Homo sapiens: one gene and its partners. The protein of the gene in region 4 interacts with the protein of the main gene of each other region in a biochemical or structural test. Each region holds a gene or a part of one and is shown on either strand. Other genes may lie near its edges.

The links.
Region 1: the proteins of YWHAB (region 4) and LRRK2 interact on a protein array, tested with the Homo sapiens proteins (2 studies listed by BioGRID and IntAct, with this or other methods).
Region 2: the proteins of YWHAB (region 4) and TPD52L1 form a complex in vitro, tested with the Homo sapiens proteins (one study listed by IntAct).
Region 3: the proteins of YWHAB (region 4) and ZFP36 form a complex in vitro, tested with the Homo sapiens proteins (2 studies listed by BioGRID).

The regions. Positions count from the first base shown.
Region 1 is NC_000012.12:40,318,997-40,326,022, forward strand, and holds part of LRRK2 (leucine-rich repeat serine/threonine-protein kinase 2), read left to right. Parts: exon of another isoform or gene 1-979; intron 980-991; coding exon 992-1,179; intron 1,180-2,037; coding exon 2,038-2,192; intron 2,193-3,038; coding exon 3,039-3,185; intron 3,186-3,322; coding exon 3,323-3,514; intron 3,515-4,163; coding exon 4,164-4,310; intron 4,311-7,026. UniProt on the Homo sapiens protein: Serine/threonine-protein kinase which phosphorylates a broad range of proteins involved in multiple processes such as neuronal plasticity, innate immunity, autophagy, and vesicle trafficking.
Region 2 is NC_000006.12:125,156,770-125,163,795, forward strand, and holds part of TPD52L1 (tumor protein D53), read left to right. Parts: intron 1-7,026.
Region 3 is NC_000019.10:39,402,420-39,409,852, reverse strand, and holds ZFP36 (mRNA decay activator protein ZFP36), read right to left. Parts: upstream 3,007-7,433; 5' UTR 2,949-3,006; coding exon 2,925-2,948; intron 2,111-2,924; coding exon 1,154-2,110; 3' UTR 446-1,153; downstream 1-445. UniProt on the Homo sapiens protein: Zinc-finger RNA-binding protein that destabilizes several cytoplasmic AU-rich element (ARE)-containing mRNA transcripts by promoting their poly(A) tail removal or deadenylation, and hence provide a mechanism for attenuating protein synthesis.
Region 4 is NC_000020.11:44,888,686-44,895,711, forward strand, and holds part of YWHAB (14-3-3 protein beta/alpha), read left to right. Parts: intron 1-7,026. UniProt on the Homo sapiens protein: Adapter protein implicated in the regulation of a large spectrum of both general and specialized signaling pathways. Binds to a large number of partners, usually by recognition of a phosphoserine or phosphothreonine motif.

The DNA of each region.
Region 1 (7,026 bases), on a different chromosome or scaffold from region 4:
TTGGGCCTAAGGACTTTATAACCTGGTATTTCACTCAACTACATGATAGCATAAATAATGTTTGCTTCTGTTTAAGTATTCCTTAAACATTATAGATCTCCCAAAGAAAATTAAATACAAACCTCTTTTTAAAGTGAATTTGACAAAGCAAAATAAATTGGAATATATAGATAAATATGCTAAAATTTGTCATATGTACTTTGCGTACTTTACATGTGTTATTTCATTCTCAGGGCAATCTAAGACAGTCACTTTTATTATCTCATTTTATAGAGAAGAAAGCTGTGCAGTAAAGAAATCAAATACCTTTCCCAAGGTTACAGAGCTAGTAGTAGAGCCTGGATTTGAATCTGGGTTCTGACTGATTTTTAACTGCCATGACAAGGATCAAAGCTCAAAGTGTGATCTCTGTGTTAGAAACATCGGGGTTGCTCTTTAAAAAAGCCGATTCTCAGGCCTCAACCCAGACCTACTGACCCAGACACTGCAAGTAGAATCCATCAAAATGCAGTAGTTACTTTGAGAATCATGAAACTCTGCTACACAGTCTGTCTTCCTATTCATGGAAGTCCTCTCCTAGTATATAAATGTGAAGTAATATTTCTATTTCAAACCTGTATTGATAACTGTCTGGAAGATAATTTTCCTGGGAATATATTATTGATGAGACTGCAAAACAGATGTGAGGTATTGGATTGATCTTTCCATTGTAGCTAGGGAAATACTGATGTTCATTGTTTCAGTGAAGTTCAATGATTTCCTATCCGAATTAACTCCCTTAATTTAACAATTTTTTTTTTTTTTTTGAGAGTGAATGCCCCTCTGGGCTTCTAGGCCACATGGTTGCTAGAGAAATTAGGTACTGTGTTGCACTTGAAAACACTAAAATCTTTCTGACTACTTTCACTGAGCAAAGAGACATAAAATGCTTTAAATTTGCAACATTTCAGAAAATAAATTTTAGTGATTATTTATGACTCGAATCTTTCAGATTTTGACAGTGAAAGTGGAAGGTTGTCCAAAACACCCTAAGGGCATTATTTCGCGTAGAGATGTGGAAAAATTTCTTTCAAAAAAAAGGAAATTTCCAAAGAACTACATGTCACAGTATTTTAAGCTCCTAGAAAAATTCCAGATTGCTTTGCCAATAGGAGAAGAATATTTGCTGGTTCCAAGCAGGTAAAGAAAACCTTAAAAAATTAATTGCTACATGGAAATTCACTATCTATTCTTTTAATTGTCAAACTAACTGTAGTCTATAATAGATGTATTAAATAAATAAATATATTTTGCTTCTAGTGTAAACCTCCTACTGACATGTATCATTTATTTTGGAATAAAACATTGCATCTGACACTTTAACAATATAGTAAATCACTTACTTTATGTGTATAGTTACTAGTTGGCTTATCACTGTTGAAATTATTTAAGAAAGGTAAATAGTGGAGATTAATGTGTGTGTGTGTCTGTGTTTGTGTATGTGTGTGTTCTTAAACAACACTGAGAGAGTTTATTAAGCAAGTTCTGAGAAGATAGTGAGTTTTCAACAGAATTTTAAAAGCATTTATGGCATCACAATGGATGCCTATGTTTTAGCCTATACTATGGAAATTTTTCCTACTGCTCTAAGCAACTGGGAAATTTATAAAGTAATATGATGTTGAAATGTGCAAATTACATTGATTGATGGATGCAGCCAATTTTAAAAATAAATATACACTTTTTTTCTAGGACATGTATTTTTCAGGATTTATATAAGATTACATTTGTCTATGCATAACTAATTGTAATAATTTATGTATTAGTGCACAGGGATTACCGAAAATATTTCATGCATCTACATCTGAGCATGCATTTGAATTGGTTATTGACCACTGAATTTTTGGTGTAGGAAAAATATGTAGTGAAACAATGTTACAAAAAGATTACAATTGTTTGGAATGATTACCTTCATTGACTTTAAGCAGTAAAATCATTTGCTCAACAAGGTTGGGTGTTTTGTGAGGCTGTATAACCATAGTGTCCTTTTGCCTTTAGTTTGTCTGACCACAGGCCTGTGATAGAGCTTCCCCATTGTGAGAACTCTGAAATTATCATCCGACTATATGAAATGCCTTATTTTCCAATGGGATTTTGGTCAAGATTAATCAATCGATTACTTGAGATTTCACCTTACATGCTTTCAGGGAGAGGTAAGTATCTAATGAAGACTTATTAGATTTTTAGAGACTATTAATTTAGACTTATTAATTTTTAGAGAAATTAGGGAGATGGCATATGAAAAGTAATATGCCATTTTCTCAGAGTTTACTTGTTTGGAAGGCAGCTGAAGAATTAGAAAATAAGCTCATAAAACCTTGGAGTAGGCAATCTAAAGACACACAAGCACATATAACCTCATCTAATTTGTCAGGAAGAAAATTCCTTAGGTGCTCACTCAGATCTTGACTGTGATTACATTGTAGGGACTGTAATTATCTCTTTTCTGTTGCACAGCCACTAAGACATTTACAAAAAAAGAGCAAATCCGGTGTTTATAATGCTAACTCTTTCTTCTAAAATAAATAGAGACATTTTGGTACTCCAAAGGGAAAATATCATTTTGGGGATTAAAATTAGCTTTACACAGGTGTTACTGGTTTCCAAAATAAACCTTACCTTGATTGGAATTAATCAACATATAGGTAGTTACATTGCATTAAAAAGTTCAGAAAGTTTTGCGTTTAGCATGATCAAAAACTTCTTTTTAAAAATTATGAGGATTTATTTATGATTTTCTTTCTTCATCTGTCGAGCATATTAAACTGCTTAACAGCATCAACCTGAAATGGATCTTAATGTGCAGGGGATTTAACTCTTTTTATTGTAAAGTTGTGGATAAAATATTTAATAGATATGGATGAGGACTCATATCAGTAACAACCCAATACTTTATTTCAAAATGAATAGATCTGTATTACAATCACTTGTGTTGTGTGCAGTAGATTTTTTCCCTTTAACTTAGGAAGCAGTTAATAATTAATGGCTCCATTTTTTAGAACGAGCACTTCGCCCAAACAGAATGTATTGGCGACAAGGCATTTACTTAAATTGGTCTCCTGAAGCTTATTGTCTGGTAGGATCTGAAGTCTTAGACAATCATCCAGAGAGTTTCTTAAAAATTACAGTTCCTTCTTGTAGAAAAGGTAAGGAAATCAATTTGAATGTTTTCAATTGCAACACTAAAGAAATTTAAACTTAAAAAAAAAAAAAACTTTACCTTAAAGCTTTGCGACAGTATGAGGTTTAGACAAGGTGTTGAGCTCTGTTTTGAATCATGTAGGCTGTATTCTTTTGGGCCAAGTTGTGGACCACATTGATTCTCTCATGGAAGAATGGTTTCCTGGGTTGCTGGAGATTGATATTTGTGGTGAAGGAGAAACTCTGTTGAAGAAATGGGCATTATATAGTTTTAATGATGGTGAAGAACATCAAAAAATCTTACTTGATGACTTGATGAAGAAAGCAGAGGAAGGTATGTTTTGATACAACTTACAAATGCTTTTAAGTGATCCTTCAATACTTATGAAGTGACTTTTAATAAATGTAAATATTCTTATCCATAAGGGATGAGTTGAAAAATAGTATATTCAATTATAGGGACAGTTCAGAAAACTGAATTATATTTATTACCAATAAAATCTTGTATTCTAGATTCAGAAAATGTTGATTTGAGGGTTTGAATGCTGGCTTATTGAGCAACATAACCTCATCTGTGAAACCGGAATACCAACCACATCTATCTCATAGAACTGTTATAAAGATTCAAATAGACAATACATGGACCTAATTTACCAACATGTCTGCCATATAATAACAGCTGCAGCTTCATGAATGTGGCAAAAGCAGAGAGTAGATAACTTTCTAGTCAGATGTCTGGTAGTCTGCAGCAGTTCAGAATTCTACAAGTGAACGTAGGAATAAGTTTTTAAAATTCCAAGTAGATAGATACTAAGTGAATCTTTAAAATGTTCTCAAATTTCCTAGAGAAATATAGGATTGGTTAGAAAGGGAGGGATTAGAAATTATAGAAAATATTCCATTATTTTTTCACATCAAAACCACAAATTTATGTATCTCCTTAAATGTTGTTTTTATTTAAAAAATGTTTTATTACTTCTCAGGAGATCTCTTAGTAAATCCAGATCAACCAAGGCTCACCATTCCAATATCTCAGATTGCCCCTGACTTGATTTTGGCTGACCTGCCTAGAAATATTATGTTGAATAATGATGAGTTGGAATTTGAACAAGCTCCAGAGTTTCTCCTAGGTAATTCTTTTTGTTAATTTGAGAATAAAAATTAGGATGTAATTTTCTCCTTATAATTTAGAAAATAGATTTCATAATTATATTGTCATAGATTTTACTGTCTTCATATATTTGTTATAATTTTTGTATTTGGAATGATATATTTTAAAGGAATATAATATTACAGATCTGGAATTTGTTTTGCACATAATCATGTAGACTAGGATCAAGATGAGGATGAGATTATCATGGAAGCAGAAATATTTATGAAATATATCTTTGTATTTGCCTTAATTGCCAGGGATATGGGAGGCAAATAAGACAGTTTTCAGGTGAGTTAAGTGAAGCAGCCATATTTTATAAAATGACAGAATAGGTAAAGGAAGCACACCTCAGTGTAGCCATAGCAGGGGTTTTATGACTCAGTGTGACAATGCTGAATTCTCATAGAAATATTCATTAAAAGCCTTGAAATTAAAGTCAAAAGTGTTACATGGTGACATACTCAAATACTTTTTTTTTTTTTTTTGATATGCTGAACAATTTACATTTCTTGGTTCCGTGAATTCAATCAGTGATTTTCAGTAGAGTATGATGGAAATCATTGAATTCATGTAGCATGTTTAGGTGCTCATTGAGAAAAGGTGAAGTCATGGTAACCATGTTTCAATATTCTCATTTGTATCTTGACTTCCTGCACATGGATTTTTGGGCCTAAAAGATGTTTTTAAAACATGCTCATACACTTCAGAAGATGAAAAGTGTATGCATTATAACTACTTTGGGAAAGAAACAGTCAACATATGTTACTGTATGTCATTCTGTAGATTACATGTGTGGTTTCTCATGTCTCTCAGAATAAAAGCTAATGTCTTTACAAGACCTGCGATGCTGTGATCTGTCTGGCTCCTCGGTTATCATTTTTAAAAAAAGATATACTTTGTACAAATTTTTTTAATTGACAAGTAAAAATTGTATATATTTATGGTGTACAACATGATGTTTTGATATATGTATATGTTGTGGAATGGAGAAGTTTAGCTATTTAACATATACATTATCTCAAATATTTATGTGGTGAGAACTATTAAAATCTACTCTCATAGCAATTTACAAGTATACAGTATGTTATTATTAACTGTAGGCTGACATACTCAAGTTTTAAACATTCCTGAGAGTCATTGGGACAACTATGAAATGCATTAGATTGATTTAATATAAAGCATTTGAAGACAATTTTGACCTTACTTTGTTTAGTTTTTGTTGTTGTTGTGTGTATACATTTAATTTTAATCAAATTACCCCAGAAATAATGCCTAAGATCTGTCAGTCAGGACATAATATTATTAGCAAAAAGTTGTCCAAAATTTGAGACATGATATTTAAAGCTAAATAAACTCCTTTATACCCCTCTTATTGGCATTGATTGGGAAGTTTAGGTTGAATTTAAATGCTTTGGAACTCAGGAAGTTAATGTATTAGTAATAGTGGGTTAACATAAAATGCTGAATTGTCCTTGCTGAATCCTACATCTTAACCCCAGACTTCAAGGTATACAGGAAAGTACCAGACATGGTGCATCCTTCCTCTGAAGAAATCCCAAACTGTCAGACACAGATCCCTAAAATATTTCTTTTTCCTGCATTAAAATGTGTTTCAGATGAATGGACACGTTTTGAGTAGTGTATGTGGAAACGTCATTTACAAAGTCTGTTTAGTTGGCCAGGTGTAGTAGCTCACTCCTGTAATCCCAGCACTTTGGGAGGCCGAGGTGGGTGTATCACGAGGTCAGGAGTTGAAGACCAGCCTGACCAAGATGGTGAAACCTCATCTCTACTAAAAATACAAAAAAATTAACTGGGTGTGGTGGTGGGCATCTGTAATCTCAGCTACTCGGGAGGCTGAGGCAGAGAATTGCTTGAACCTGGGAGGCGGAGGTTGCAGTGAGCCGAGGTTGTGCCACTGCACTCCAGCCTAGGCGACAGAGCGTCTCAAAACAAAACAAAACAAAAAACAAAAAAGCAAAGTCTGTTTAGCTACCCATATAGGAAAATGTTTGTGATTACTCTCCCTTCTCTAGACCCATGTCCCATAAATCCATAAATCCCATGTTCATTTACAGAAAGCAGTCTAGATAGGAGTTTCTCAGTCTTTGAGCTGTTGCCATTTTGGCTTGGATAACTAACTCTTTCTTATCGAGGGTCATCCTGTGCACTGCAGAATGTTTGGCAGCATCTCTGTCTATCCACTAGATGTCAGTAGTATCTCCCCTTCCCTCAGATGTGACAATCAAAAATGTCTCCGGATGTTGCCAAAGATAAGGGGTGGGGTTGAATACCAGTGATTTAAACAAATTAGGTGTATCCTTCTAAAAACATTTTACAGGTAGCGACTCCAGCATCTTTATATTAGAGTAATCTGGAGAAGGTTATGCCTCTCTCAATTTTCCCTCTTTCCATTTTTATTTGTAGGGCAGCAATGCATTCAGGCTTTTGGTAACTCTTTTTCCCAAGATAGCAGTAACTATTATGCAGTGAGTAATACGACCCACCTTAATAGATATGAATAGACTTGTTTTGTGAATATATTTTAAAATATAAATGTATGGGATTCTGTTCATGCGTCTGAGAAGCCACAGGGTACATTTCCTCTTTGTGGAGCTATTTATTTTTCTGGAGAGCCAAGACAGGTATTTCCACTTCAGTGGTGTGATTTGAGGGGTTAGGAAAATTTCCTT
Region 2 (7,026 bases), on a different chromosome or scaffold from region 4:
AAAACAGATAAACAAAAAGAGAATAACAACAAAAAAACTTAAGAAAAGTCAAAATTGGATTGAATGTGAAGGAGGGCAGTGTCAAGGATGACCAGCTTCCTACTTGTACAATCAAATGGAGGATAATTACCTCTTAAATCTTTATTTGCCTAGCATTTTAAGATTTTCATTTTCAGACTTTTTGTTATTTATAAAGCAGAGATATTGAGTTATTTAAGAAAAAACTTCTCACAAACTGTTTATAGCATATATTAAAGGGAAATCTTTTTTCCACTTGCACATTTTTTCTGGCTAAATGAATGATTTGCCTCTTAGATTCTAGATAAGACAGTTCTGTGATTTTTAAAGTGTAAGTTTCCACCTTCAGCACAGTTTATTTTAGAATTACCTAGAGTGGAGATGGCTTGTCTTTCTGCCTGCTAATCTAGAGACAGGTAAAGATAAGTGAGATTAAGCAGGCAGTTGCTGATGAGTTGTACCTCATATTGTCCAGGAAGACACCAAGGTGTTATGGACATGATTCGCCCATATAGCTCAGTAAGTGCAGCAACTTACTGCACTAGAAACTTTCCCATAAGTGAAATTATGCAAATATGTTCTTTGACTTTGTAAAATAATAGATTACTTCCAGCAAAACAAGAGGACTCTCAGGGGAGGTGGTAGGACACTAAACAGGAAGTGGGATTATGGGTGGAGCTGTTCACTGAGGAGGGCTGGAGAACAACGTGGAGAGAGATGTCCACAGGAGAATGGCATTCCTATTTGCTTTCCTCTGGTACCAGATAATTTTGCTTTAAGACAACTGATATGTTAGAGAGGGAATTGGGTTGGAAATGTAGCATTTTCCCGAAACATACAGTAGTCCTTTAAAATAAAAACTTCCTGATCCTTTTAAACTACCCTTCAATATTTTATTATTCTAAATGGAAATAACTTTGTTGTTTTCACCTTTCCCAACGTCTTTAATGTTACAAGGAAAACTGTCTCCTTTTAACATTTGCATATATTCAAATTAATAACTATGTTAGTTTCTCAAGGCCACTGTAAAAATTACCACAAACTTCGTGGCCTAAAACAATTAACATGTGCTGTCTCATTGTTTGGCGGTTAGAATTCCAAAGGCACTATCACTAGGCTGAAATCAAGGTGTCGGCAGCGCTGTCCTTCCTCTGGAGGCTCTAAGAAAGAAATCGTCTTTCCCTCTTTCAGTTCCTGGTGGCTGCCGACATTCTTGGGCTGCATCACTCCAATCTCTCTGTCTCCGTGGTTATGCTGCTTTCTGTTCTGTTCGCATCAAACCTCCCTCTGCCTCTCTCTTATAAGGACACTTGTGATTTCATTTAGCACCTACCTAGATAATCCAGGATAATCTCTCTCTCTCTCAAGACCTTTAACTTAATCACACCTGCAAAAGGTAACATTTCCAGGTTCCAGGAATTAGGATATATTTAGGGGCCATCATTCAGTTTACTATAATAACTATTTTTTATATCCACTCAAGAAGAGTCTCAGATGTCCATGAATGAAATAAAGCAATAAATATCAGATTAACCCTACTGTTTGCAAAGTCCTTTAAATGAAAATGTCATTATACTTTACATTATACTTTATACTTACATTATAAGTATACATTCTACATTATACATTATACTTTACATTATACTTTATACCTTACATTATACTTTGCTCACAGAACATTTATATAATTTTATCTTGTTTCAGGAAGTACATAAGGCAGTTTATATGGATACTTGAAATGCAACAAGATAATGTAAATTAAAAATAGATGAAAGAAAATAAATGAGGATAAGAAGAGAAAAGGAAGCAAGGGATGAAGCTCTAGAAAAATGAATATAATCACATTACTTTTATTGATATTGCATGGAAGATAAATTCTTACTTTATAAAGGAAGTATGGCATTTTGTTATAAAATGATAAAAGAACCATTCTTCCTTCTGTCAAACAGCAGCAGGTCCAGTCTCTTATACAGGCATACCTTGGAGATAGTGTGGGTTCAGTTCCAGATCACCCCAAAGAAGTGAATATTGGAATACAGCGAGTCACACACGTTTTTTGGTTTTCTAGTGCATATAAAAGTTATGTTTATACTATACTGTAGTTTGTTAAATGTGCAATAGCATGCTATCTAAGAAAAGGTACATACCTTTATGTAAAAGATACTTTTTGCTAAAAATTGCTAACGATCATTTGTGCCTTCACTGAGTGGTAAGTGTTTTACTGGTGGAGGGTCTTGCCTGGATGTCGATGGCTGCTGACTGATCCGAATGGTGGTTGCCGAAGGCTGAGGTGGCTGTGGCAATTTATTAAAGTAAGACAACGAGGAAGTTTGTCACATAGATTGACTATTCCTTTCAAGAAGATTTATATATAGCCTGTAATGCTGTTTGGTAGCATTTTGTCTGCGATAGAACTTCTTTCAATATTGGAATCAATCCTCTCAAGCCCTGCCACTGCTTTATCGACTAAATTTATATAATTCTAAATCCTTTGTTGTCATTTACACAGTGCTGTGAACATCTTCACTGGGAGTAGATTCCATCTCAAGAAACCACTCTTTGCTCATCCATAAGAAGCAACACCTCATTCATTCAAGTTTTAGCATGAGATTAAAATGTCATAAATTTAGTTACATCTTCAGGCTCCACTTCTGCTTCTTTTGCTGTTTCTACCACATCTGCACTTCATTTCCTCCACTGACATCTTGGACACCTCAAACTCATTCAGGAGGGTTGGAGTCCACATCTTCCAAACTCCTGTTAATGTTGATATTTTGACCACCTCCCATGAATTACGAATGTTCTTAATGACATCTAGAATGGTGAATCCTTTCCAGAATGTTTTCAATTTATTTTGCCTAGTTCCAACAAAAAAATCACTATCTATGGCAGCTGTTTTCTTATGAGATGTATTTCTTAAATAATACGACTTGAAAGTCAAAATTACTCCCTGATCCACAAGCTGAAGAGTGGATGTTGTGTTAGTAGACGTGTGAGCAATGTTAATCTCTTTGTACATCTCCATCAGAACTCTTGGGTGACCACGTATGATATTGTTTGGCTGTGTCCCCACCCAAATCTCATCTTGAATTGTAGCTCCCATAATTCCCACATGTCATGGGAGGGAGCCATTGGGAGGTAATTGAATCATAGGTGCCGGTCTTTCCCATGCTGTTCTCATGATAGCAAGTCTCACGAGACATGATGGTTTTATAAAGGGGAGTTCCCCTGAGTATGTCCTCTTGCCTGCCACCATGTGAGATGTGCCTTCCATCATGATTGTGAGGCCTCCCCAGCCATGCGGAACTGTGAGTCCATTAAACCTCTTTTTCTTTACAAATTTCCTAGTCTCGGGTATGTCTTTATTAGCAGCATAAGAATGGACTAATACAGGTGTGTTATCAACCAGAAGTAATATTCAGAAAGAAATATTTTTTTTCTGAGCAGTAGTTCTTAATAGTGGACTTAAAATATTCAAGAAACCATATTGTAAACAGTTACCCAGGCTTTGTTATTCTATTTATAGAGCACATTTTCTAAATCTATAGATTTAGAATAATTATTTATTTATTTGTATTTGCATTTTCATAGATGAAAGGTCTTGCTCGGTTGCCTAGGCTGAAGTACAGTGGGATCATCATAGCTCACTGACACCTTGAACTCCTGGGCTCAAGCAATCCTCCTGCCTTGGCCTCACAAAGTGTTGGGATTACAGTCATGAGCCACTGCATCTGGTTACAGTTAGAATAATTCATAAGGGCCTTAGAACTTTTTGAATAGTAAGTGAGCATGTAACTTAAAGTCACCAGCTACATTAGCCCCTAACAAGAGAGTCAGCCTGTACTTTGAAGTTTTGAAGCCAAGCATCGACTCCTCCTCTCTAGCTATAAAAGTCCTAGCTGACATCTTCTTCCAGTGTAAGGCTGTTTCATCTATATGAAAATGTGTTGTTTAGTTTAGCCACTTTCATCAACTATCTTAGCCAGATCTTCTGGAGAGCTTGCTGCAGCTTTGGCAACAGCCCTTGCTGCTTCACCTTGCACTTTTATGTTACAGAGATGACTTTTTTTTTTTTTTTTTTTGAGATGGAGTCTTGCTCTGTCACCCAGGCTGGAGTGCAGTGGCACGATCTTGGCTCACTGCAACCTTCACCTCCTGGGTTCAAGCAAATTCTCCTGCCTCCGCTTCCTGAATAGCAGGGATTACAGGTGCGTGCCACCACGCCCTGCTAATTTTTGTGTTTTTAGTAGAGATGGGGTTTCACCATGTTGTCCAGGCTGGTCTGGAACTCCTGACCTAAGGTGATCCACCTGCCTCAGCCTCCCAAAGTGCTGGGATTACAGGCATGAGCCACCATGCCAGGCCTGAGATGACTTCTTTCCTTAAACCTCATGAACAAATCTCTGCTAGCTTCCAACTTTTGTTGCACAGCTTTCTCATTTCTCTCAGCCTTCATAAATTGAAGAGACTTAGGACCTTCTCTGGATTAGATTTTCACTTAAAGAAATGTTGTGGCTGGTTTGATCTATCCAGACCACTCAAACTTTCTCCCTATCAGCAATTAGTCTATTTCACTTTCTTATCATTTGTGTGTTCAGTGGAATAGCATGCTACGTTTCTTTCAAGAACTTTTCCTTCACATTCACAACTTGAATCAAGAGGCCTGCTTTTGATCTATCTTGGCTTTCACTGTGCCTTCCTTGCTAAGTTTAATCATTTCTAGCTTTTGACTTAAGGTGAGAGATTTGTGTCTCTATGTTTCACTTGAATACTTAGAGACTATTATAGGGTTAATTGGCATACTATCAATATTGTTGTGTCTCAGAGAGTGGAGAGGGCCAGGGACAGGGAGAGAGATAGGGAAATGGGTGGCTGGTGGAGCAGTCAGAACACACACAGGATTTACTGGTTAAGGTCACCATCTTATATGGGCATAGTTCATGGTTCTCCAAAACAATTCTGATGGTAACATCAAAGATCACCAATCACAGATCACCATAACCGATTTAATAATAATGGAAAAGTTTGAAATATTGTGAGAGTTACTAAAATGTGACACAGAGACATGACATGAGCCCATGTTGGAAAAATGGCACCAATAGACTTGCACAACCTGGGGTTGCCACAAACCTTCAATTTGTAAAAATAATATCTGTGAGGTACAATAAAGTGAAGTGCAGTGAGGTATGTCTCTAACTATTAAATTATCCAAGGAAAAAATTATTTTGCATTTTATGTTTCATATTTAAAATTTTGTATTGAAGTTTAGGCAATATAATAATAAACCTCAAACTATGGAAGCAAGCTGTTATATATTTTGATTTATGATTTTTAAGAGTATTATTAAGACTATTCATACAATTTTCAAAGTTACCTCCTGTAGTTTTGTTTCCTGTTTAAGTAAAGGTTTTGAAATAGGTGATGATGCATATTTTAGGTGAAGTCAGTCATTTGCAACAAATCATATACCACTGTTTTATTTTAAATTATTTTAAAATCTAATTATACAAATGGCAGCTGTTGTAGTAGATGGGAACATATTTTGAATTGCCTTCCCTGTTATACACCTTATTAATTATCTGGGTAGGCAGAATCTGAGAATTTCTTCAAAAACTTATAAGCAAAGGAGTCCATTTTTGTGGCCTATAAGAAGATGTGCTACTTAGTAATTTATAGTAAATAATAAACAAATACTTCAGCAGATATTGATTCATTAAATATTTTAATAAATACTTATTGATTACTGCAGTAATAGCAAATATTTGACAAGCACATACTATTGGGAGGGAAAAGGGCATAGTGATTAAGATCCCAGGATGAAGGTAAACTGCCTGGATTTTAATTCTGACATGTTACTTACCATTAATATGACCATGAACAAGTTATTCATTTCACTCAATCTTGGTTTCTACATATGCAAAGTGAAGATAGTAATAGCTCCAATATCATAGGATTGTTATGGGGATTTAACATGTTAATACAAGCAAAGTGCTTAAAGCAGGGCCTAGCACATGGTAAGTAGTATATAAATGTTTGCTGTTGCTTTTATTAGCATATGCTGAAAACTTTGCATCCATTATTTTATCAAAACCTTATAATAACATCATGAGGTAGATACCTTTACTTTTAACTCATTTTATAAACAGGGAACTACGAGTCAGAAAAATTAAATGAAGAAGACAGGATTCAACTCCAAGTTTAATTGAGTCCAGAGAATGAGCTTAACTACTATACTGCACTGTGCCTTAATGTGTGCTGTGCCACACGTGCAAAGGGGAAGCTAAGATGAACTTGACATGGTGTCATCTTTTCAGGAGGATAGGCAAAAAAGAGTTGAGAGTCGTTCCTGTGGGTTAACACCTAGAACTAATGAGAGGACATATTTCCATCCCAATGGGATTTTTTGAGTGCTAATGTGCTAATTAGAGCTAATTCACATTGAGGGTGATAATAGCAATAACATTTTAGTGTTTTTACAAATGTCAAATACCATGGCATGCACTTTTTTAAAAAGCATGTTATTTAGTCAGGTGCAGTGGCTCCTGGTACTTTGGGAGGCCAAGACGGGAGGATCACTTGAGCCCAGGAGTTCAAGACCAGCCCAGACAACATAGCAAAACCCTGCTTCTACAAAAAATAAAGAAGTAAATTGGGCATGGTGATGCATGCATGTATTCCCAGCTACTTGGGAGGCTGAGGTGGGAGGATTGCTTGAGCCCAGGAGTTTGAGGTTGCAGTGAGCTATGATTGCATCATTGCACTCTAGCCTGGGCTGGACAAAGTGACACCCTGTCTAAAAAAAAAAAAAAAGAACAAAAACAAAAAACTCCAAACATGTTATTTAATAAGTACAACAGGCCGGGCGTGGTGGCTTATACCTGTAATCTCAGCATTTTGGGAGCCTGAGGTGGGCGGATCACCTGAGGTCAGGAGCTCAAGACCAGCCTGATCAACATCGTGAAACCCCCTCTCTACTAAAAATACAAAAATTAGCTGGCGGGCACCTGT
Region 3 (7,433 bases), on a different chromosome or scaffold from region 4:
AGGTGTCGAAGCCCCCCCGGAACCTCTAGTCCCGAAACGGGTTCCGCTACCCCAGGCTGCCCCGCCCCGCGCCCGCCCCCGCTCGCTCTGGGCGCGCGCCCCAGCACATTCCGTCCTCCCCACCCGGCCCCTCCCGCCTCCCGCGGCCCCGTGGGGACGGAAACATCCCGTCCCCGACCGCACCCGCCCGAAGCTGGGTCAAGGAGCCCAGCAGGACGGGAGCGCGGCGCCCCCGACGCCCGGGAACTGGCTCCCCCGGTTCCCATCTGGTGACCTCACCTGGTCCCACCCTTTCAGGTGAACGGCCAGGCCCGGTGACGTCACTTCCTGCCAGGTAAGCGCCGCGGGGCTCGGAGAGGAAGAGTTAACTGCACCCAGCTTCCAAAAAGTCACCCCCTCCCTCTCCATTCCTGTCTCTAGACCGCGAAGAAGCCAGGATCCCAGCTTACACTCAGATTGTTTATTTAAAAATGCCCAAAACACAAAAATAGACTTTTAAGGTAATAATATATATTACTAAATATATTATAGTCTACTTATAATAATTATATCGTCGTTTTCAATATTACAAAAAAAGGAAGAAAAATACAAGGGAAGCAGACGACCCAATATATATAAATACTATAAAATCATATTAGAATAAATAAAGTCGTCATAAATAAAGGGCCCATTGATTTATGGGTGGGGTTTGGCAACGGCTTTGGCTACTTGCTTTTGGAGGGTAATTTGAGCACCAGGATTCCCCCTCAGGAGAGGTTCCAGTTACCAGGAGACACTGGAACCTCAGGTCTATAAAAACTGGAGGGGCAGTGAAGGCCTATTATTCACAGCACATAAGATTCTAGGAGACAGATTTGGGCAGGGAAGAGGTGGGGGAGAGGGTTCATTGCCTCCCTTAAATATGCTACAATTTTTTTTCCCCCAAGAACCTCGGAAGACACTCCATCCCCCACCATCATGAATACTGAGCTTGCACACTTGGGGACCTGCCCCAGCGTGAGGTCAGGGGAGTGGGTTAATGCATTCTGGAAAAGGGGATTACTTGATTACTGTCCCCCAAGTCCCCACAGCCCTGGGGTCCATGCAGAGACCACAGTGCAAGAGACGTGGCTCCCCGCTGAGATCCAGCTGATCTGACCGGGCAGTCACTTTGTCACTCAGAAACAGAGATGCGATTGAAGATGGGGAGTCGCCGGGGGGCTGCCACGGGCTGGGGTGGTGCAAAAACTCCCGCCTCGAAGACGGGAGAGTCAGAGCCCCCCAGGCTGCTGCCGCTGCTGGCATATTCATCAGGGTCGGATCCCAGGGACTGTACAGAGGGGGTCCGAACCAGGCCACCCAAGGGCCCCCAGACGCTGATAGGAGTGGCCCTTCGGCAGGAGGGGCAACAGACTGGGGTGGGGTCTCTTCGAGCCAGGGGGGTGCCAGGGGCAGCAGAGAAGGCAGAGGGTGACAGTGGAAGGTCCCCAGGTGGTGGTGGGGAGCTGGAGGGCGAGAAGGAGCTGGAGGACAGGGAAGGGCCGGCCAGGCCTGGTGGTGGTGGTGAGGTCCGGCGGCCAGAGGGCAGGCCGGAGAAGCTGATGCTCTGGCGAAGCACAGGAGGGTGGCCCGGGGCCGCCAGGTCTTCGCTAGGGTTGTGGATGAAGTGGCAGCGAGAGCCGTAGGGGCAGCGGCCCTGGAGGTAGAACTTGTGACAGAGTTCCGTCTTGTATTTGGGGTGGCGATTGGCCTGGCGCAGCTCGCCCAGGCCATGGGCAAACTGGCACTTGGCCCCGTAGCGGCAGCGCCCACTCTCTGAGAAGGTCCGACATAGCTCAGTCTTGTAGCGCGAGGGGGTGGTGGAGGTTGCAGTGGGCGAAGTGGGTGAGGGTGACAGCTCAGGGCCCAGGCGGGGAGCCAGCGGTGCGAAGCCAGGGGGTGGGGGCACCCAGCCACAGCTGCGGCCCTCCACTAGGCTGGTGGAGCGGCCAGGCAGGCGGGAGGTGACCCCAGACGGGCTGGAGTCGGAGGGGCTCAGGCTCCAGGGTCCCGAGGAGCCCCAGCCTGGGCTGGACTCAGTCCCTCCATGGTCGGATGGCACGGGCACGTCAGGGCTCAGCGACAGGAGGCTCTGCGGAAATGGGTCGGTTAAGGCACCTGAAAATGCAGGGCGACGCCCCACCCCAGCTGCAGGGAACTAGAGCTTGCCAGGCCGGTTTGTGGGCTCCCCGCCTGAGCCCCACCCGCCCGCAGAAACCCCTGGGTTCCGGATGCCAGGAACCCAGAGTTGGAGGTTCTGAGTTTACCCACCACCGAGGCCTTATCCCGAGGGACCCAGGAATCCCGGCTTCCCCGGCTGGACCAAGAGGGGGACCCCGAAGTCAGGGCGCACCACTGTTTCCCAATTTTGGGTCTCTTGTCCTCCCCGGATATGACCCACGCGTCGGGATCTCCAGTTTCACAACTGGAGAAACCGGGCAAAGTTGACCTGGAAGTCCGGATTGCTTCGGTTTTAGGGTTCTCTGTCTCTACGGTCAGGGACTGGAGAGACAGAAGTCGGATCCCCCCACCCTGAGACTTCAGCCCCAGAGACGCCTCCGCGCAAAACCACGCCCTCAGCAACGACTAGGGGTGAGCCAGGTATGGGGGCCACTTCCGCCTCCAGGCAGCCTCGGTCTGAGAAAAGTTCTCCGACTTTCCACTTGCATGGGCCGCCCCACCCATGTTTGAGCGAAGAGCCGGGTGTCGCGGGTTCCATTTTCACCTCCAAATCACCAAGCTGGTCTGAGCGGGAGGCAGGGGCCCCAGGCTGGAGGGCGCGGCGCTAGGGAGCCCCAGTTGGAGAAGGGAGGCAAGCGTCCCGGGCTGGAGTTTGCGGCGCTAGAGAGGTGGGGACTCGGACTCAGGCATGCAGGTACCGGGGATGCCGTGCGGCGGGGACTCACCTCGTAGATGGCAGTCAGATCCATGGTGTAACGGTTGGCCATGAGGGGTGTCGGCCGAGAGTGGGAGCGCTGAAGTCAGGCTGAGGCTGGCACCGAGAGCCGGCTACTTATAGGAAACTGCAAGCACGGGGCGGGGCCGGGGCCGGGGCCGGGGGCGGGGCAGGAGGGGCGCTTCCCGGACGCGCGCCCCCGGCGCAGCCTGGCTGGCCCTGGACTGGTTCCCTTCCGCCCGGCCCTGGGCCAGGACGCGCCTGAGCTTGGCCGGTGGACAGCCGTGACCGAGCGGGGAATGCGTGGGGAAGGGGTGGGGGTGCGGATGGGGGGACGCCTGCCCAGTTTTCAAAGCTGGAGACTGAGGCTTGTAGAAGGAAACTGGGGCGGAGGTGGGGGCAGGGCCCCAGGGGCAATTGACAAGAGCAGAAGCCCGATGGGGGTGCGCGTGCGACACAGACGGATGGGGGCGGGGAGAGACGCAGAGGGGTACAGACAGGCAGACAGGCAGAGAGAAAAACATCGAGAGAGACACACACACCAAGAGACATACAGAGAGAGATAGACAGGGTGAGGAAGGGAGGGAAGACGGGGAGACAGAGACAGTCCCAGAGACAGATTCAGAGGGAGAAGAGGGTTGGGAGGATCACAAAAAGAAACAGAAAGGGGCTGAGCGCAGTGGCTCACACCTGTGATCCCAGCACTTTTTGTGTTTTTCTTTCCTTTTTCTTCTTCTTTTTTTTTTTTTTTGAAAGACGGGGTTTCCCTATGTTGCCCAGGCTAATCTCCAGCTCCGGGGCTCAAGCGATCCTCCCACCTCCGCCTCCCAAAGAGCTGGAATTACAGGTGTGAGCCACCAAGCCCGGCCAATCCCAGTACTTTCAGAGGATGAGGCAGGTGGATTACCTGAGATCAGGAGTTCAAGATCAGCCTGGGCAACAGTGAGATCCCATGTCTACAAAAAATACTATTTAAAAAAATTAAAAAGAAAAAGAAACTGGACAAAAAGGAGAAAGACTGTGAGAAATAAGCACTTACGGAAAGAAATCTGCAGAGCAAAGTGCCAAGAAAGAGCCAGCAGGCCTTGGAGGGGAATTCTCTGAGAACTGCCTGCCTTGTGTGGTCTCACTCCTAAACAGCCCAGACAGATAAGGAGACCTGGACTGCTCTCCCTCTCCCCACTTGCTGGGGTTGGGTGGGTGAGTGAGTGGGTTGGGTGGGGTCCAGGATACCTGGCAAGGCTGAAAAGGGGCCTCCTTTCCCAATTCACAGGGCGGCTCTAGCCCCCTCACCCTCGGGCGGATGATCTCTTCTAGGCTGAGTTAAGGAGAACTCACCTGGGCTGAGTTCTAAGTACTTTACGCACATTAATCCTAATGCCAGGTGGTATGCCCATTTAAGGCAGGAGGAAACCAAAGTGAAGTTACTCTCCTGCCCGGCTCACACCTGTAGTCCTAGCACTTTGGGCGCCCAAGGCAGGCGGATCACTAGAGCTCGGAGTCTGAGACTAGCCTGGGCAACACGGCGAATCCCCATTTCTACAAAAATGCAAAAATTAGCTGAGTGTGGTGGCGCACACCCTGTGGTCCCGCTACTCGGGGGCGGGGAGGGAGCAGGCTGGGGTGGGAGAGTCGCTTGAACCCAGGAGGCAGAGGTTGCAATGAGCCGAGATCAGGCGACTGCACTCCAGCCTGGGCCACAGAGCGAGACTCCCTCTCAGGGGGAAAAATAAAGTTACTCTCCTAGTTCGAGCTAGCAAATGGCACAGGCCTCATACTAGGGTCTGAAATTATGTCGAGGTTTGCCCTCTGAGAAAACTCAAGATTGGCAAGGTGGAGGTCTTTCACTATAACTGATGGTTGCATTGATTGAAAAAAGCTTTCAAAAAAAAAAAAAAAGGTCATCCTCAGTTGATGGCTGGATGGGTCTCTTATAGTGGGGTGTGCCTTCAGACTACATTTTCCTTTTTTTTTTTTGAGACGGAGTCGCGCTCTTTCACCCAGGCTGGAGTGCAATGGCGCGATGTCGGCTCACTGCAAGCTCCACCTCCCGGGTTCACGCATTCTCCTGCCTCAGCCTCCCGAGCAGCTGGGACTACAGGCACCCACCACCACGCCTGGCTAATTTTTTGTATTTTTAGTAGAGACGGGGTTTCACCGTGTTAGCCAGGGTGGTCTCGATCTCCTGACCTCCGTGATCAACCCGCCTCGGCCTCCCAAAGTGGTGGGATTACAGGTGTGAGCCACCAAGCCGGCCGGGCCTCCTTTTTTTTTTCTTTTTTGAGATGGAGTTTCGTTTTTGTTGCCCAGGCTGGAGTGCAATGGCGCGGTCTCAGCTCACTGCAGCCTCTGCCTCCCGGGTTCACGTGATTCTCCTGCCTCAGCCTCCCGAGTAGCTGGGATTACAGGCGCCGGCCACCACGCCCAGCTAATTTTTGTATTTTTAGTAGAGACGGGGGTTTCACCATGTTAGTCAGGCTGGTCACGAACTCCTGACCTCAGGTGATCCACCTGCCTCGGCCTCTTAAAGTGCTGGGATTACAGGTGTGAGCCACCGCACCCCGCCCAGACTACATTTTCAAGGATCATTCCCCACACTGGCACATCTTTTGTTATCAAAGGGTCGCCCTAAGTGAAAACCCTCTTAAGATCTAGGAAGACTATTTTCTAAGGGGTGCTGGAGAGCTGGATGCCCTGAGTGAAAATGTGGGGGTAGAAATCATTGCCACAGTGCGCAGTTATAATGGTGGAAAGTTCATTCTTGCAGGCTGCGGGCTTGTATTAAGGTGGGGAGATTCTGCCAGGCTCCACGTCGACCTGCTTCGTCCGAGAGCGGCGGGGGGGAATCCCTGGTGCGGCGCTTGCTGAGGGGCCTTCCCGGGCCGGTCTCGTGAGCTGGGCGGGCCGCGGGCGGCTCTGGCACGGTTGTGGCCTCCTGCTCGCCCGTGACTCACTCGCAAGGGGCGGGGGAGTGGGGGCTTCCTGGAAGCCGTGACGAGGAGGTTCAGCCCGGACACTCGGGTTCCTCTCCTGTAACCAGGGCTCCCGTCTCCTGTAAACAGAGCCTTGAGGACAACGGGGAAAAAGGGGGGAGGAGGGGGACCTGGGACCCGCCTCTAGGCCGATCTCCAAATCCTTACGCAGCTTAAAGGATTGAGGCGGGGAAAGGGGGGTTGGGGGCATCCTTGGGTTCGCGGAGCCCGGCTCAGCTCGGGCTGCGATCAATCCTGGAGGAGGGATTCCAGTTTCTACTCCCTGGAGACCGGGAGCATTTCCCATCCCTGAGTCAGGCTGTCCCCCTCCTCTCTCCCATCTGCTGAGTCATCGGCCCCAAGAGTCAGGACTTTTGGGATAGGGCCACTCTCAAAGGAGGGGGATGCTTTGCTCGCAGAAGGACTGGTCCTCCACCTCCCCAAACCCACAGACCTGGGGGACCCAGGAGCCAAGGCCTCAGTCCCTCCTCCCTCGCAGTAACCCAGGGCCCTGGGTCCCCAGCCCCTCCTCCCTCAGACCCAGGACTCCAGGCCCCCAGCACCCCCCTCCCTCGGATCCAGGGGTCCAGGCCCCCAGCCCCTCCTCCCTCGGAACCAGGGGTCCAGGCCCCCAGCTCCTCCTCCCTCAGATCCAGGGGTCCAGGCCCCTAACTCCTCCTCCTTCAGACCCGGGAGACTCCCAACCCCCCCTCCCTCAGACCCAGGGGTCCAGGCCTCCAGCCCCTCCTCCCTCAGATCCTCAGGTCCCCCGAGACCCCAGCCCCTCCTCCCTCAGACCCAGGGGTCCAGGCCCCCATCTCCTCCTCCCTCAGATCCAGCGGTTCAGGCCCCTAACTCCTCCTCCCTCAGACCCGGGAGACCCCCAGCCTGTCCTCGATCAGATCCAGGAGACCAGGCCCTCAGCCCTCCCCTCAGATCTCGGGCGTCCCAGGCCAGAAGGAAGTTCATGGCAGGACTCCTCCCTGCTCCCTACGTAGCCAGCGGGAAAATCCGCGGCCCCAGCGGCGGCCGGGAATCCCCTCTGGAATGACGGTGGGGAAGGGGATGGCCGGGGTCCCCCCGCGGGGCGCTGGGGCCAGTCCTGGGCGGGCGGGGAAAGAAGGAAAGGGGCGGAAACCAGAGAGGCTAAAAATACAGCCAACACTTCCGGCCTAGGGGGAGGGGAGGGGAGAGCAGAGTTTCCAGAAAAACAAGCGGGGACGGGAAACGCGGGGGTGTGAGAGCTGGCCGAGTGCGCGGGCGAGCTGGGGATCGTGTACCCGCGGCACGTGTGCTCGCGCCGTGTGTGCGCCTGGCGCGATTGCCTGGGCCTGAGCGGGCGTGGCCAAGGGCGGCGCTGGCCGTGTGTACCCTGGCCTGCGACTGCGTGGGCGGCGGGCCTGGGCTAGCCGTCATGTGTACCCGGTTGTGTGAACAGTATGTGTGCTTGCGGGTGCAAAGGTGTGCGCCTTGGCATCTGGGGCTGCGAGAGCCTGTGTGCCTGGGTATGCAGTGGGGGAACGTGAGGGACACGAGTGTGCCCAGTT
Region 4 (7,026 bases):
ATACCCATTCTGGCCTGTAGGGATGATAATTGCTAGCATGCATCAGGAAGCAAGCTTGTGAACAATCCAGTTTTTCTAGTACTTGCTTCATACTAGGGAGAAAGTCATCAGTTACTTTGGCATAGAATTTTAGGTTCTTCATCTAATAGAATTTGATTGTGACCATTAATTTTTGTTTATCTTACGACTTCATCAGTAGATGTTCAGATTTTTCTCATTTTGTTGGCAGGGAGGAAATGAGGAAATATATCTACGTAAATAGAGAGAAACTTCTAAATTAAAACATCCTGTTGTGCTACCTGCTCTTTCGGTGTCAACAAACTGAGTTTTCCTTTAAATGCTGGTACCTTAGAGAATGAACTAAAATTTCCTTGTAGAGATACTTTTAAGTTCCTTGTTTCTACATTTTTCTAGGGAAAGATGACAATTCACTAGTTAAGGGGCAAGAAATTATGGTTACATAATAGCAACCTTTAAGCTTTAGAATCCTTTTGATCTCTATGTGAATATGATCTTAGCAGTCATCTGTATTGCATGATGGAGAAACTAACGGTTGGAGCTGGATTCTGAGGGAATTTTTCTAAGGGGAATACTTGAGGAAACAGACTAAAAGTGCTTTCTGTCTCATGATATGTGTGCTGAAGGCCAATCATCTTACTGCTTTCTCAACTAAAAGATTTTCTAATAGAGGTGTGGTTATATGTATCTGATACTTGTAATGAGATGTAAATGATCAGTGGCCTCAAGTCATTCCTAGCAGATTGTAGGTTAGTTAACTTTTTTTTTTTTTTTAAATTCTGGCCAGTTCTTTATTATGTAAGTTTTTCCCGTACTGGTTAGTTTATTTTATTGTTTTCCCTAAAAGAACCAACAGGAGGTTATTTCTGAATGGCCTTGACCAGGACAAGAAGATTGAAGGCTACAATAAAGTAGATATGAGTCCTGTCTATTATTATTATTTGCCCTCAGCTAAGAGCTTTCCTTTAAAATTTGTTTGACATTTTGGTAAGTCTTTGGCATGTTTTTATGCTGTTTTTAACTCCTTGATTTTGTTTTTATTTTTAAAGCTAGATAACATTAGCTTAATAGGCCAGTTTTAAAATTTCACTGTAACAACCTTGTATAGTTCTTTTAAAAGTTGACAATTCTCTCTTTTCCTTAAGTGAGCATTGGAGTTCATAATTGATCTTTAGGAGATAGGGTTACATAAAGGAAAGAGCATTAATTTTAAAATTAATGTTGGTTTAGATCCCAGATCTGCCATATATAGCTGTGTGACCCTGAATGAGTTAACTCTTTGCATTTATAAAACGGGACAATGTCACCTGCCTCATAGGATACTTAGGATCAAATGCGTTTCTAGGAATCCCTGAGTGCTTTGCAGGCCATAAATGATGGATGGATATTTTTGTTATTTACTAAACGAGTTAGCTGGTTTGGGTTTCTGTATAGTGAACTTTTTGTATAGCGAACTGATTGGACTTCTGAATGGAGGAGATGGACAGAAAGTAATCCAAAGGCTTGTTGAAAGTCAGTTTGAATCTATAAATACAATGATTGGTAGCTGAAAAATATTAGTCAAAATGTATAGTGTTGCTCCTGATGAGAGCTGGCTGGCTTTTTTCAAAAAGTAGTCTAAGACAATAAAAACAGTCTGTATTTTATAGGTCAGATGTGTGCTACCTTCCTCTGTCCACGTAGGAAATAATTGCTTTTTCACTTTTTAAGAATGCATCAGTTGATCAAGCAGTCACTCAGTGTGCTAGGCCTTGTACTCCACATTGGGTGTCCAAAGATACAAGTCTGGATTCCTACTTTTTTTTTTTTTTTTTTTTTTTTTTGTGAGATGGAGTCTCACTCTGTCACCCAGGCTGGAGTGCAGTGGCACGATCTTGGCTCACTGCAACCTCTGAAGCCCGGGTTCAAGCAATTCTCCTGCCTCAGCCTCCTGAGTAGCTGGGATTACAGGCGCCTGCCACTGCGCCCAGCTAATTTTTGTATTTTTAGTAGAGACAGGGTTTCGCCATCTTGGCCAGGCTGGTCTTGAACTCCTGACCTTGCGATCCACCTGCCTCGGCCTCCCAAAGTGCTGGGATTACAGGCGTGAGCCACCACGCCTGGCTGGATTCCTACTTTAAGCTCACAATCCGGTGTGGGAGCCAGCAGAGACACTTGCATTGCAGTAAACTGTGATAAGGGCCATTTTAGAAATAAGCATAGGGAAATTGTTATGTGCCTTTCTTTTAAAAGTCTTTAAAGAAAGCAGAGTACGTGTAAAATAAATGAGGTACATAGTAAGTTTCCCTTCACTGGCTGACCATTGGTTTTTTAAGTTTTGTGTGGAATGTACTGTGGTTGCCATTTATTTGAGTGCTTACTGTTTTATATCATAAACAGGTTTACTCCTTACAGGAACCCTAGTAAGTAGATTTGCCTATGTTTTTTTTTTTCTTCACAGAGTCTTGCTCTGTCGCCTAGGCTGGAGTGCAGTGGCGTGATCTCAGCTCACTGCAGCCTCTGCCTTCAGGCTGCCTCAGCCTCCCAATTAGCTGGGATTACAGGCGCCTGCCACTATACCCGGCTAATTTTTTTATATATTTAGTAGAGACGGGGTTTCACCATGTTGGCCAGGCTGGTCTTGAACTCCTGACCTCAAGTGATCACCCTCCTCGGCCTCCCAGAGTGCTGGGATTACAGGCGTGAGCCACCACGCCCAGCCCAGATTTGCCTGTATTATGGATGAGAAAACAAATTCACAGAGGTCACATAGCCTGTGGACTTGGTGTGCGGTACTGGTAAATCAGACTGATAGGCTTCATTATGTCAGTGGGCCCCAAACTGTAGAAATTATTCATAAGGTCAACCAATTGGGCTGTCTTTATGGATCAGAATTAACATAGTGTCTTTTGGATTGATTACTTAAGCCAAGAAGTCAATTTATTGTCATATCTACCATTAAGTCACATGTGTAACCTTGCGCCTGTCACTTAACACCCTCAGTAAGTTTAATCATGGCTAATTGGACATAATTAGCAATGATATGCAACAGCTGATGTGAAAGAGGGAAGGGATTTTGAAATAATAGAAATGCAGTTTCTCTCCAAATTCAGTGTTCACTGGACTTAGTGCTAATGACTTTGTATTACAGATATGCTGTGTTTTGTTTCCTAACAAAGAACCTGCAAATGTTTGAATGGAATTAAATTTATTACAGGACTCTAAATTTTATATGTAGAATGGCACACAGACAGTTTTATAGTGGGTGTTTTTTAGTGAGTAGTTTTCTCTGAGAGCCAGGAGTGTTTAACTTTTTCTGGGTAACACCCACTAACCACCTGGTCCCACTGACTTTCTCAGTCCCTTCTGCAGTAGCTTGGCATCTGATTTTTCTTCAGCAGAGAGACTCCAGAACTAAAACTTCTGCTGTACAGTGCTGTGGATGCTCTATCTGGAATGGTACATCTGTGAATGCTGTTCAGAATATGTGATCAGTTCCTTACCCCATTGAAACATTCGAGCCTAGATTTTTCAGATTTTCTTGTCAGTTTTCTTCCTTATTCTCATTTCTTTATCTGCTTTGGCCTTTGATTTTTATCTCATCTAGAAAAACATACATGCACTTTATTAATAACATCTCTTTTTAAGTCACGACCTAGCTACCTTTAAACCTATTTCCTCTAGTTCTGTCTGGTTGGCTTTCTAAGGAGAGGCATTGTAACCCTTAAACGTGTGCTGTTTTTTTTTTTAATTGATGTGTAATAGATATACATGTGCTCTTTTCTTGTGTTTCTACCACTAGAGTTTAAGCTCTCTGAGGGGAGGACTACACTGCTTTCTTTTAAATTCCTCTCAATGAATAATCCAAAGAGTTCTTAGAAATTTGGTAGTTTTTCATTTTGTTAGTTATTTCAACACACATTGGATTATATGTGTTACATTTTTGTGAGGTAGCTTAAGAATAAAAAATAAGAATGGCTTATGAGCCTTTACTCTAACCAGCACTATATGGGCATTTTATGTTCATTATCTTATTTGATAGCTATTAATGTCTCTTTTTAACACTGAGAAAACAGATTCAGGTAAGTTATAATGTGGAAATGTAGAAAAATCACCTACTTTCTCTTTAGAAGCTCAGATGTGTATGTAAGGCTTGCTAAAAGCAGACCCCACCGTATATTTTATATGTATAGAGCTTGGGTAATTCCTGACATATAATAATGGAGTCTTCATCTGAAATTTCTAACAAATTATTAAATTCAAAGCTTATTATTTTCGAATCGAGCATGTTCTTTGCCTTGAAAACAAAACATAGCTGAAAGCCAGTGCTTCTAAAGGCCACAGCTGTCATTTTCAACCCTTTCTGTCTTTGCACTGCCTTTATTTAAAAAAAAATGGATTAGCAGTAGGTAGTCTTCTTTTTCTTTTCTTTCTTTCTTTTTTGATTCTTCTCCTAGGATATCTGCTCTAGCCACTGGGAAATAACTTCTCAGTATTTTGACCCTGACTAGAAAGATGTCCCTTGGGGAAGGAATTGGGATAGAGGGGCTAGGCTGTTTCCTAGATCCTCTATTTTCAGCATTTATTATCTGATTTAGGATTTTGTTTCTTTGAAGAAAATCCTATTTTGTGAGTACCTTTAGAATTATTTTTCATAGCTGTTTATCTGCACTAGTGGTTTCTCTTTAAACAGAAAAACACTTTTTTTCTTAAAAAAAGAAATAGTACCCAATTTTTAAAAAAGTAATACATACTTGAAGAAAATTTAAAAAGATAGGAAAATGAGGATATAATAATGTTATTACCCAGAGACAGAACCAGTGTTAACCATTTGGTGTAACCTTTCTGTTCGGGTTTGTTTGTTCTTTAGGGGATATTTTACAGAAATAAAATATTGTGCAGCCTCGTCCCTCCAGCCCCCATTGCTCTTAAATAAATCTTTTCATGACATTAAATCTCTTCTTTTGATGGCCACGTAATCTTGTACCATCTATCTCCTTCCCTCCCCTGCCTTTTTTTTTTTTTTTTTTTTTGAGACGGAGTTTCGCTCTTGTCGCCCAGGCTGGAGTGTAGTGGCGCAGTTTCGGCTCACTGCAACCTCCACCTCCTGGGTTCAAGTGATTATCCTGCCTCAGCCTCCCGAGTAGCTGGGATTACAGTCATACACCACCCCGGCTAATTTTTTTGTATTTTTAGTAGAAACGGGGTTTCACCACATTGGCCACGCTGGTCTCGAACTCCTGACTTCAGGTGATCTGCCTGCCTTGGCCTCCCAAAGTGCTGGGATTACACACGTAAGCCAGTGCACCTGGCCAGTCTCCTTATTTTTTAAACCATTCCCATATTGTTGGATATTTAGATTTGCTTCCATTTTTTCACTAAGCAATCTCTGCGTTTATCAACAAATGCTTCCCAGTCCTGACTTGCTGCATCCAGTGGCTTAGAACAGATTGACAGCCATCATCATCATATAGGTGTGCTGGAGAGCTCCTGTTCTCAAGCACGTCAGTCTCTTCCTGAAATATGCCCAGCACAAGGAAAATCTCTTGGCTTACTGCAGGGTTGGGCCTTTTGTGGCCTCTAATGAGTTTGCCTGCGCCAGTATCTTGATGCTTCTGCAGTGGTGCCAGGCCTGACGATGAGACTATAGTCTTTCAAAAACTTTTTAGGAGACAAATAAAGAGTATCTTGCTGACTTTTTTTTTAGTGGGAACCTCATTCAAAGTCTTGGAACAACAGTAGGTCTTGATTAAAAACCATCATGGCATATCACTAGAAAATTCAATTAGAAACTAATGGATAAACTTCAGTTACATTTAACATATATGTCCATTTTAACATAACATACTAACTATCTGTACAAGATTAATCTAGACTTTTGCTTTTCCTTCTCACAAAATTGTATATTTAAAAAGAAAATTCAAGCTTATGGTTTTATGGGCTGCTACAGTGTAATAGTCGTGGAGAAGAATAATAGTACTTCAGTTTGATTTTGCACTATGCATTTTTCAAGGAAGATTTCCACATTTAGTATTCTTTAATTCCCTGCGCCTCATCTTCACAGCAACTCTACTGAGGTAGATGCCATCTTCATTTTATGGATTGGAAGGCTGAGATTTAACATGCTCACATGGCTGTATAGTGGCACATTGCGCTGTGACACACAGTCCTGCTGCCTTCCGACTATACTACATATAGGTACTCTGTGTTCCTTGTGCTCTCCCAATAATGATTTGTAGAAAAACTTGATATTCATTTGCATATGAGTTTTGTGCTTAGCACAGTTATAAGCATTAAATGTGAAACAAACATGAAGCTTTCCTTTGAGGGCACACACGTGAAGCTGTAAGTGGTACAGTACTCATCTGTATCACAGAATGGCATAAAGAAGTCCTAGACCATGTAATAGGCTATAAGTATATTCAGAGTCATAGGCAAGGTAAATCAGTGAGGGCTAGGGCAGTCAGGGAAGGGTTTGTAGCCCTAGAAGAATGGGTGGAGTTCAGATAGGCAGGCAGTAAATAGGAGAGCACTCTAGATGAAGGGAACTACAAAAGCAGTTTCAGACACGTTTGAGCATTGTGTTTATAGGGCATGTGGTGCTGGCCAGCCTGAGAGAAAGGTACATGTTGGAGAACAGTGGATGAGAAAGCCAAACAAGTAAAGAGGAGACAATTTATCAGGAATTTGAAAGCCAGGTAGAGCTTAAATTTGATGGAGTAGCCAAAAGGGAGTCATTGGAAGTTACTGAGTAAGGACAAAGGCAAGACTAGAGGTAATTTAGGAAGAGTAATTTTTTGTTTGTTTTGAGACAGGGTGTCTGTCACCCAGGCTGGAGTGCAGTGATGCAGTCATGGCTCAGTGCATCCCTGGCCTCCTAGCCTCAAGCGATTCTCCCATCTCAGCCTCCCAAGTAGCTGGGACCACAGGCATGAGCCACCACACCTGGCTAATATTTTATTTTTTGTAGAGACAAGGTCTTACTATGTTGCCCAGGCTGGTCTTGAACTCCTGGTCTCAAGCGATGCT